Homo sapiens: one gene and its partner. The protein of the gene in region 2 interacts with the protein of the main gene of each other region in a biochemical or structural test. Each region holds a gene or a part of one and is shown on either strand. Other genes may lie near its edges.

What was found.
Region 1: the proteins of USP18 (region 2) and STAT2 form a complex in vitro, tested with the Homo sapiens proteins (one study listed by BioGRID).

What each region holds. Positions count from the first base shown.
Region 1 is NC_000012.12:56,346,467-56,350,277, forward strand, and holds part of STAT2 (signal transducer and activator of transcription 2), read right to left. Parts: intron 3,725-3,811; coding exon 3,631-3,724; intron 3,171-3,630; coding exon 3,123-3,170; intron 3,044-3,122; coding exon 2,960-3,043; coding exon of another isoform or gene 2,906-2,959; exon of another isoform or gene 2,879-2,905; intron 2,796-2,878; coding exon 2,697-2,795; intron 2,618-2,696; coding exon of another isoform or gene 2,594-2,617; coding exon 2,458-2,593; intron 2,386-2,457; coding exon of another isoform or gene 2,339-2,385; coding exon 2,286-2,338; intron 2,158-2,285; coding exon 2,063-2,157; intron 737-2,062; coding exon of another isoform or gene 706-736; exon of another isoform or gene 519-705; intron 490-518; coding exon 353-489; intron 159-352; coding exon 1-158. UniProt on the Homo sapiens protein: Signal transducer and activator of transcription that mediates signaling by type I interferons (IFN-alpha and IFN-beta).
Region 2 is NC_000022.11:18,152,883-18,156,693, forward strand, and holds part of USP18 (ubl carboxyl-terminal hydrolase 18), read left to right. Parts: intron 1-3,811. UniProt on the Homo sapiens protein: Interferon-induced ISG15-specific protease that plays a crucial role for maintaining a proper balance of ISG15-conjugated proteins in cells. Regulates protein ISGylation by efficiently cleaving ISG15 conjugates linked via isopeptide bonds.

The DNA of each region.
Region 1 (3,811 bases), on a different chromosome or scaffold from region 2:
AGCTTCATCCCGGGGGATTCGGGGATAGAGGAAGCGCAGTGGGTTTTCAGGTATATTCTCCTCAGTGAGCAACTGGTAATGGCGGATGATTTCAGTCAGCGGGAGTGACTGCAGCACCTCCTTCGTGTACGGTTGCACAGAGTAGATGAGCACCTTGTCTGGAGAGTGAATGCAGGAACAGGCGGGCTTGAGGGAAGAGGCCGGGCCTTGGAGCTCTCTGCTCTGGCTGCCCAGTCCCAAACCAGCTGAGGGATTCAGTTCAGAGCCAGGGAAGCCAAGGGCAGGCAGAGGGGCAAGAGGGGAGCCAGGCAGAAAGGAGAGGCTGTGGGAATGGCAGGGCAGAGCAGCTGACCATCATCCTGGTGCTCCACCCAGGAGCAGGTAATGCCCCCTTCTGACGATTCACTGAAGCGCAGTAGAAAGGTGCCAGACATGGTCTTCTTCAGCAGCCGGCGCTCCTGGCTCCGACTCACAAAGCCCATGATGCGTCTGGAGCACAGAGAGCAGCTGTGAGACACCGCCCAACACCCTGCCCCACCAGGCCCCTGCCTCCCTGCTCCCCTTGTATGGAGAAACAGCCCAGGTTTGGAATCCAGGCTTTGGACCAAGCCCTGCCACTTAGCTTTTTTTTATCTTTTACAAGTCACTTCACTTTGCTGACAATAGCCACCTTCCGAGGGTTTGAAGTACGAAGATTCAGTGAGATCACACAGATGAACAGCACTTTTTTTTTTTTCTGGGAGACAGGGTGTCATTCTGTCACCCAGGCTGGAGAATAGTGGCATGATCACAGCTCACTGCCACCTCGACCTCCCGGGCTCAAGCAATCTTCCCACCTCTCAGCCTCCAGAGTAGCTGGGACCACAGGTGCACACCACCATGCCTGGCTAACTTTTGTATTTTTCGTAGAGACGGGGTTTCACCACGTGGCCCAGGGTAGTTTTGAACTCCTGGGCTCAAGTGATCTGTACTCCTCAGCCTCCCAAAATGCTAGGATTACAGGCATGAGCAACCACGCCTGGCCACAAATAGCACTTTTTTTTGGTTTTGTTTTGAGACAGAGTCTTGCTCTGTCACCCAGGCTGGAGTGCAATGGCACGATCTTGGCTCACTGTAACCTTCTCTCCTGGGTTCAAGCGATTCTCCTGCCTCAGCCTCCTGAGTAGCTGGGATTACAGGCGCCCACCACCACACCCGGCTAATTTTTGTATTTTTAATAGAGATGGGGTTTCGCCATGTTGGCCAGGCTGGTCTCAAACTCCTGACCTCAGGTGATCCACCCACCTCGGCCTCCCAAAATGCTGGGATTACAGGCGTGAGCCATCGTGCCTGGTCATGAATAGCACTTTTAAAAGCCAAATGCTACACAAGTTGGTAGGCAGTGTGGTGGAAAGAGCATGGGCTTGGAGTCACATAGGCCTGGATTTGAATATCAACTGTGTCCCTTGGGTAAGTTCTTTAACTTCTCTGAAACTCAGTTTCCTCACATGAAATGAAGCTGGCAAAACCCACCACTCAGCATGGTTGTAAGGATGAGATGAGAGAATTAATGAAGAGCACCCATCAAGCTCTGGAATGTAGGAGATGCTTCACAAACACTGTTTATGGCTATTATTGGTTGTTTTTTTTTTTTTTTTTTTGAGACGGAGTCTTGCTCGTCACCCAGGCTGGAGGGCAGTGACGCAATCTCGGCTCACTGCAAGCTCCATCTCCCAGGTTCACGCCATTTTCCTGCCTCAGCCTCCTGAGTAGCTGGGACTACAGGTGTCTGCCACCACGCCCGGCTAATTTTTTGTATTTTTAGTAGAGACGGGGTTTCACCGTGTTAGCCAGGATGGTCTCGATCTCCTGACCTCATGATCCGCCCGCCTCGGCCTCCCAAAGTGCTGGGATTACAGGTGTGAGCCACCACACCCGGCCTTATTATTGTTAACAAATGTGAGGAGACGTGGCCTGCACCTGTCTTTGCTCTCTCTCCCTGCTTGCCACGTGAGGGTGCAGAGACTCCACTCTCAAGCCCGGAAAGCACAAGCCCATGAGGGAAGGGTGACCAAGGCCTTACCCATCATTCCAGAGATCCTTCAGGTGGTCATGTACCAACTCCAGAATTTTGTCCAGCCATGTCCAGAATGGTAACTTGCCAGGAGGGCTCTCTCGCTGGAGGAGGAATGGAAAGGTAGCAAAAGCTGAGGAGTTGCCTCTGGTGTAGGGAAGGAGGGACGTGGGAAGGCCAGTATTTGGAATGTGGGCTAGATCCAGCAGCTCCACAGGATTCAGGGAGTTACCTTAGTGAAGTCAGCCCAGGACAATAATGGATCCTCAGTCCTACAGTTCTGCCCTGTGGGACAGATAGCCACAGACAGATGATGAGGGAAGCCAGGGGTCCTGGGATAGATAGGACAGAGGGACAGAAAAGACTAAGGCTGGGGAAAGGCTGAGAGAAAAGGAAATCTGTACCGAACAGCTTGTTTCTCAGCATGCTCAGCTGGTCTGAGTTGAGGCCTCGGCCAACATAGGAGGAGAACTGCCAACTGAGAGCAGGGCCCAGCAAGCTCCAGGGGGCCTTGGGGGGGTTGGAGAAGAACTGCTGGTTCTGCAGGGGTGGGAGCAGTGTAGGCTGGCTCAGAAGCAACCTATCACACCAAGCTTCCACACCCCTCCTCTCGCGCCTTGACCTGTCGGCCCCACTCCCCTACCTGAAGGTTTGGGCTGAGCAAATTGAACCAGAGAACTGAAGCCCAGGCAATTGAGAGCTGGTTCATGTTGGAAATAATCACCACAGGGAGGGTGTCCGTCTGGGGAGAAGACAGGAGTCACAGAGAGGGATGTGATGTTTCTAGCTGCAGGTATTTGTTAGAGGAAAGGAGTGCTAACCCACCCCAAGAGGCTTCTGTTTATCCCCTTCTTATGCCTTCTTCCAAAGCTGCTTTCTCTCTCCTTGCCCTCCATTTTCACTCACTTTCAGCTCCTGCTTCAGACCCTGGTAGGTATATTTGACCGTGAAGCTGATGATGTGCAGTTCCTCTGTCACACCTAGTGGCCCCTGGGACAGCCAAAGACATAGTCATCAGAAGGCTCTTTGGCAAGCTCCCCCTGCCTCGAGTCCTCTGTCCAGATCTCACCTTATTGCTGCCCTTTCCTGAACCACCTGAACGTTGCTCCACCAGAGTCTGTGAATTGAAGGGAAGGAGAGAAAATGCCAGAGTGGGCACCCTAGTGTCCCTGGAACCCCTGTTTGGCTTCAAGACCTCTCAAGCCCTGGGAACTTCCCCCAACCCCTGTTCCTTTGGACTAAAAGCAGGCCAGCTATGGTGGCTCATGCCTGTGATCCCAGCACTTTGGGAGGCTGAGGCGGGTGGATCACCTGAGGTCAGGAGTTCGAGACCAGCCCGACCAATATGGTGAAACCCTATCTCTACTAAAAATACAAAAATTAGCCGGGCATGGTGGTGTGTGCCTATAGTCTCAGCTACTCAGGAGGCTGAGACAGAAGAATTGCTTGAACCCGGGAGGCGGAGGTTGCTGTGAGCCAAGATGGCACCACTGCACTCCAGCCTGGGGGACAGAGTGAGACTCCGTCTCAAAAAAATAAAAATAGTAATAAAAGCATAGGTCACAAACTATTCTTACCAGGTAACCAAAGTCCCAAATCAAACCCTGACTCTGCCCCTTCTCGGGGGTCAAAGTTTTCTGGTTTGAAGTCAGAATGTTGAACTTCCGGAAGCTGTTCCAGGAGGAAGATACATGGAGACAAGGAATGGAATTATTCTAAAAACTCAGCAGAAAAAAAAAAACAGAAGTTCCACTTCAT
Region 2 (3,811 bases):
GGTCTTGGCGGAGAAGAGGACAACATCTTGGAAAATGCAGCCTGGAACCTCTCTGCTCTCTTTCATCAGCTTTCCCTCAATGATGAGCTCAAAATCCTCTTTCTTGCTGATGGAATTGTCTGCTGTCATCATTTCAGTTGAGTCCTCCTAGGCTGGGCCTTGTAAGAAGAACAACTGTTTATAACTATTGAAAGTCAATATTTACTAAGAAAAAGAGGTTGTTGTTATCTGAGCCATCCAACATGAATTTAAGAATATATTCCAGGCTGGGCGCGGTGGCTCATGCCTGTAATCCCAGCACTTTGGGAGGCCGAGATGGGTGGATCACCTGAGGTCAGGAGTTCAAGACCAGCCTGGCCAACATGGTGAAACCCCGTCTCTACTAAAAATACAAAAATTAGCCATGCGTGGTGGCACATGCCTGTAGTTCCAACTATTTGGGACACTAAGGCAGGGGAAGTGCTTGAACTCGGGAGGCAGAGGTTGCAGTGAGCTGAGATTGTACCACTGCACTCCAGCCTGGGTAAAAAGAGTGAAATTCCATCTCAAAAAAAAAAAAGGAGACAGGGTCTTGCCCTGTTGCCCAGGCTGGAGTGCCGTGGCACGATCATAACTCACTGTGGCCTCAAATTCCTGGGCTCAACTGATTCTCCTGCCTCAGTCTCCCAAGTAGCTGGGACCACAAGTACATGCCACCATGCTAGGCTAATTTTATTTTTATTTTTAGAAAATAAAATATTTTTTATTTTATTTAGGCAACATGCTATGTTGCCTAGACTGGTCTTGAACTCCTGGCTTCAAGCTATCCTCTTGCCTCAGCCAACCAAAGTGCTGGGATTGCAGGTGTGAACTGCCATGCCTGGCTTTCTATTCTCTATTTCTAGGAGATAAGCTTTTTGAGCTTTCACATATGAGTGTGAACATGTGGTATTTATCTTTCTGTGCCTAGGTTATTCCACTTAACGTAATGTACTCCAGGCTCATCCATGTTGATGGGAATTACAGGATTTCATTCTCTTGTAATGGCTGAATAACATCCCATTTTGTGTATATAGTCCACATGTTCTTTATCCATTCCTCTTTTGATAGACACTTAGGTTGATTCCGTATCTCGGGTATTATGAGCAGTGCTGCAGTAAACATGAGAGTGCAAATATCTCTTCAACATACTGATTCCCTTTCCTTTGGATATATATTCAGCAGTGGCATTACTAGATCATGTGGTATATCTATTTTTAGGTTTTTAAGGAATCTCCATACTGTTTTCCATAATGGCTCTACTAATTTACATTCCCACCAATGATTTGGTTGAGTTTATTCCTCACTCTGAGCAGCATGTTAGCTGGACTTAAACCCCGTCCAGCTTGTCTACATCTGGCCCATCACTTGCCAGTGGGAAAGGCACTTACTTCTTTGTATCTCAGTTTTCTCATCTGTCAAATGGAAATATAACAGTAATTAATTCACATGGCTGTGTAAGGATAAATAAGACAGTACATATAAAAGGCTTTCACCTTTTATAAGAAATAGTGCTTCGATGTTACCCATTATTATTATTTTATTTCATCTTATTTATTTATTTAGATACAAGGTCTCATTTGTTGCCCAGGCTGGAGTGTAGTGGCACAATCATAGTTCAGTGCAGCCTCAAACTCCTGGCCTCAAGTGATCCTCCTCCTTCACCCTTCTCAGTATTTGGGGCCACAGGCGTGCACCACTATGACCATCTAAATTTTTTTTTAGAGATGGGGTCTCAGTATGTTGCCCGGGCTAGTCTTGAACTCCTGGGCTCAAGTGATCCTCCCACCTCAGCCTCCCAAACTGCTGGGATTACAGGCCTGAGCCACCATGCCAGGCCTCATCTCTATATCTTTAGGGTTAGTCACTGGCACCTTAATTTGTTCATTTGGTGATGTCATGTTTCTCTGATTGACCTTGATCCTTATGGCTGTGTGTCAATGTCTGTGCATTGACATAGGTACCTAAGCCAGTCTTCATTGCCTGGCTTTGTTTGGGCTCGTCTTTCATCAGGAAACCCATAGGAGATTAGGGAGAGGCTGATTGGTCAGGACCCTAAGCCCATGACTGCTTCAGCTGTTGTAGTGCTGGGGGGTGCTCTAAGCCCAGCATCACTGTGGTTGGAATTCTTTGGCCACTGAGGCTGACACAGCCCTGGGTTATGCCTGAAGGCCATAGCTGCCGAGACTGGCACAGCACTGGGGCACGCCCAAGACCCACAGCTGTGATGGCGTGCTTGCTGCTGCTGAAGTTATTCAGGGCCCAGGGCCACTGTAGTTGTCAGGTAGTGATGTGGGCCAGATCGCCAGTCCCTGTTACTGGGGCTGTGGGTTCTCATCTGGCACTAGGGTGGGGTGAGATCTGCCTGTGGGTACTGGTCTAGTATCAGGGTGATGAGGCTCTGCCCAGTACTGGGTTTTACTGTAGTGAGCCTAGTCCTGGTGACAGGTGACAGCGTGCTGGCAGCCATCACAGCCCTCGCTCGCTCTCGGTGCCTCCTCGGCCTTGGCGCCCACTCTGGCCACGCTTGAGGAGCCCTTCAGCCCACCGCTGCACTGTGGGAGCCCCTTCCTGGGCTGGCCGAGGCTGGAGTGGGCTCCCTTAGCTTGCGGGGAGGTGTGGAGGGAGAGGCAGGGGCGGGAACTGGGGCTGCACGCGGTGCTTGTGGGCCAGCGCGAGTTCCGAGTGGGCGTGGGCTCGGCGGGCCCGCACTCGGAGCGGCCAGCCGGCCGGCCTGCAAGCCCCAGGCAGTAAGGGGCTTAGCACTTGGGCCAGCAGCTGCTGTGCTCGATTTCTCGCCGGGCCTTAGCTGCCTCCTGGCAGGGCAGGGCTCGGGACCTGTAGCCCGCCATGCCTGAGCCTCCCCACCCCGCAGCCATGGGCTCCTGTGCGGACCAAGCCTCCCCGACCAGCGCCGCTCCCGGCTCCACGCCGCCGAGTCCCACCGACCACCCAAGGGCTGAGGAGTGCGGGCGCACGGCGCGGGACTGGCAGGCAGCTCCACCTGCGGCCCAGGTGTGGGATCCACTGGGTGAAGCCAGCTGGGCTCCTGAGTCTGGTGGGGACTTGGAGAATCTTTATGTCTAGCTAAGGGATTGTAAATATACCAATCGGCACTCTGTATCTAGCTCAAGGTTTGTAAACACACCAATCAGCACCCTGTGTCTAGCTCAGGGTTTGTGAATGCACCAGTCGACCCTCTGAATCTAGCTACTCTGGTGGGGACTTGGAGAACCTTTGTGTCCACACTCTGTATCTAGCTAATCTAGTGGGGACGTGGAGACGTTTTGTGTCTAGCTCAGGGATTGTAAACACACCCATCAGCACCCTGTCAAAACGGACCAATCAGCTCTCTGTAAAACAGACCAATTGGCTGTCTATAAAATGGACCAATCAGCAGGATGTGGGTGGGGCCAGATAAGAGAATAAAAGCAGGCTGCCCGAGCCAGCAGTGGCAACCTGGTCAGGTTTCCTTCCATGCTGTGGAAGCTTTGTTGTTTCATTCTTTGCAGTAAGTCTTGCTACTGCTCACTCTTTGGGTCCACACTGCCTTTATGAACTGTAACACTCACCGCGAAGGTCTGTAGCTTCACTCCTGAAGCCAGCAAGACCACAAACCAACCAGGAGGGACTAACAACTCCAGACGCGCTGCCTTAAGAGCTGTAACACTCACCGTGAAGGTCCGCAGCTTCGCTCCTGAAGCCAGCGACACCACGAACCCACCGGGAGGAACGGACATCTCCAGATGCGCCGTATTAGGAGCTGTAACACTCACCGCGAAGGTCTGCAGCT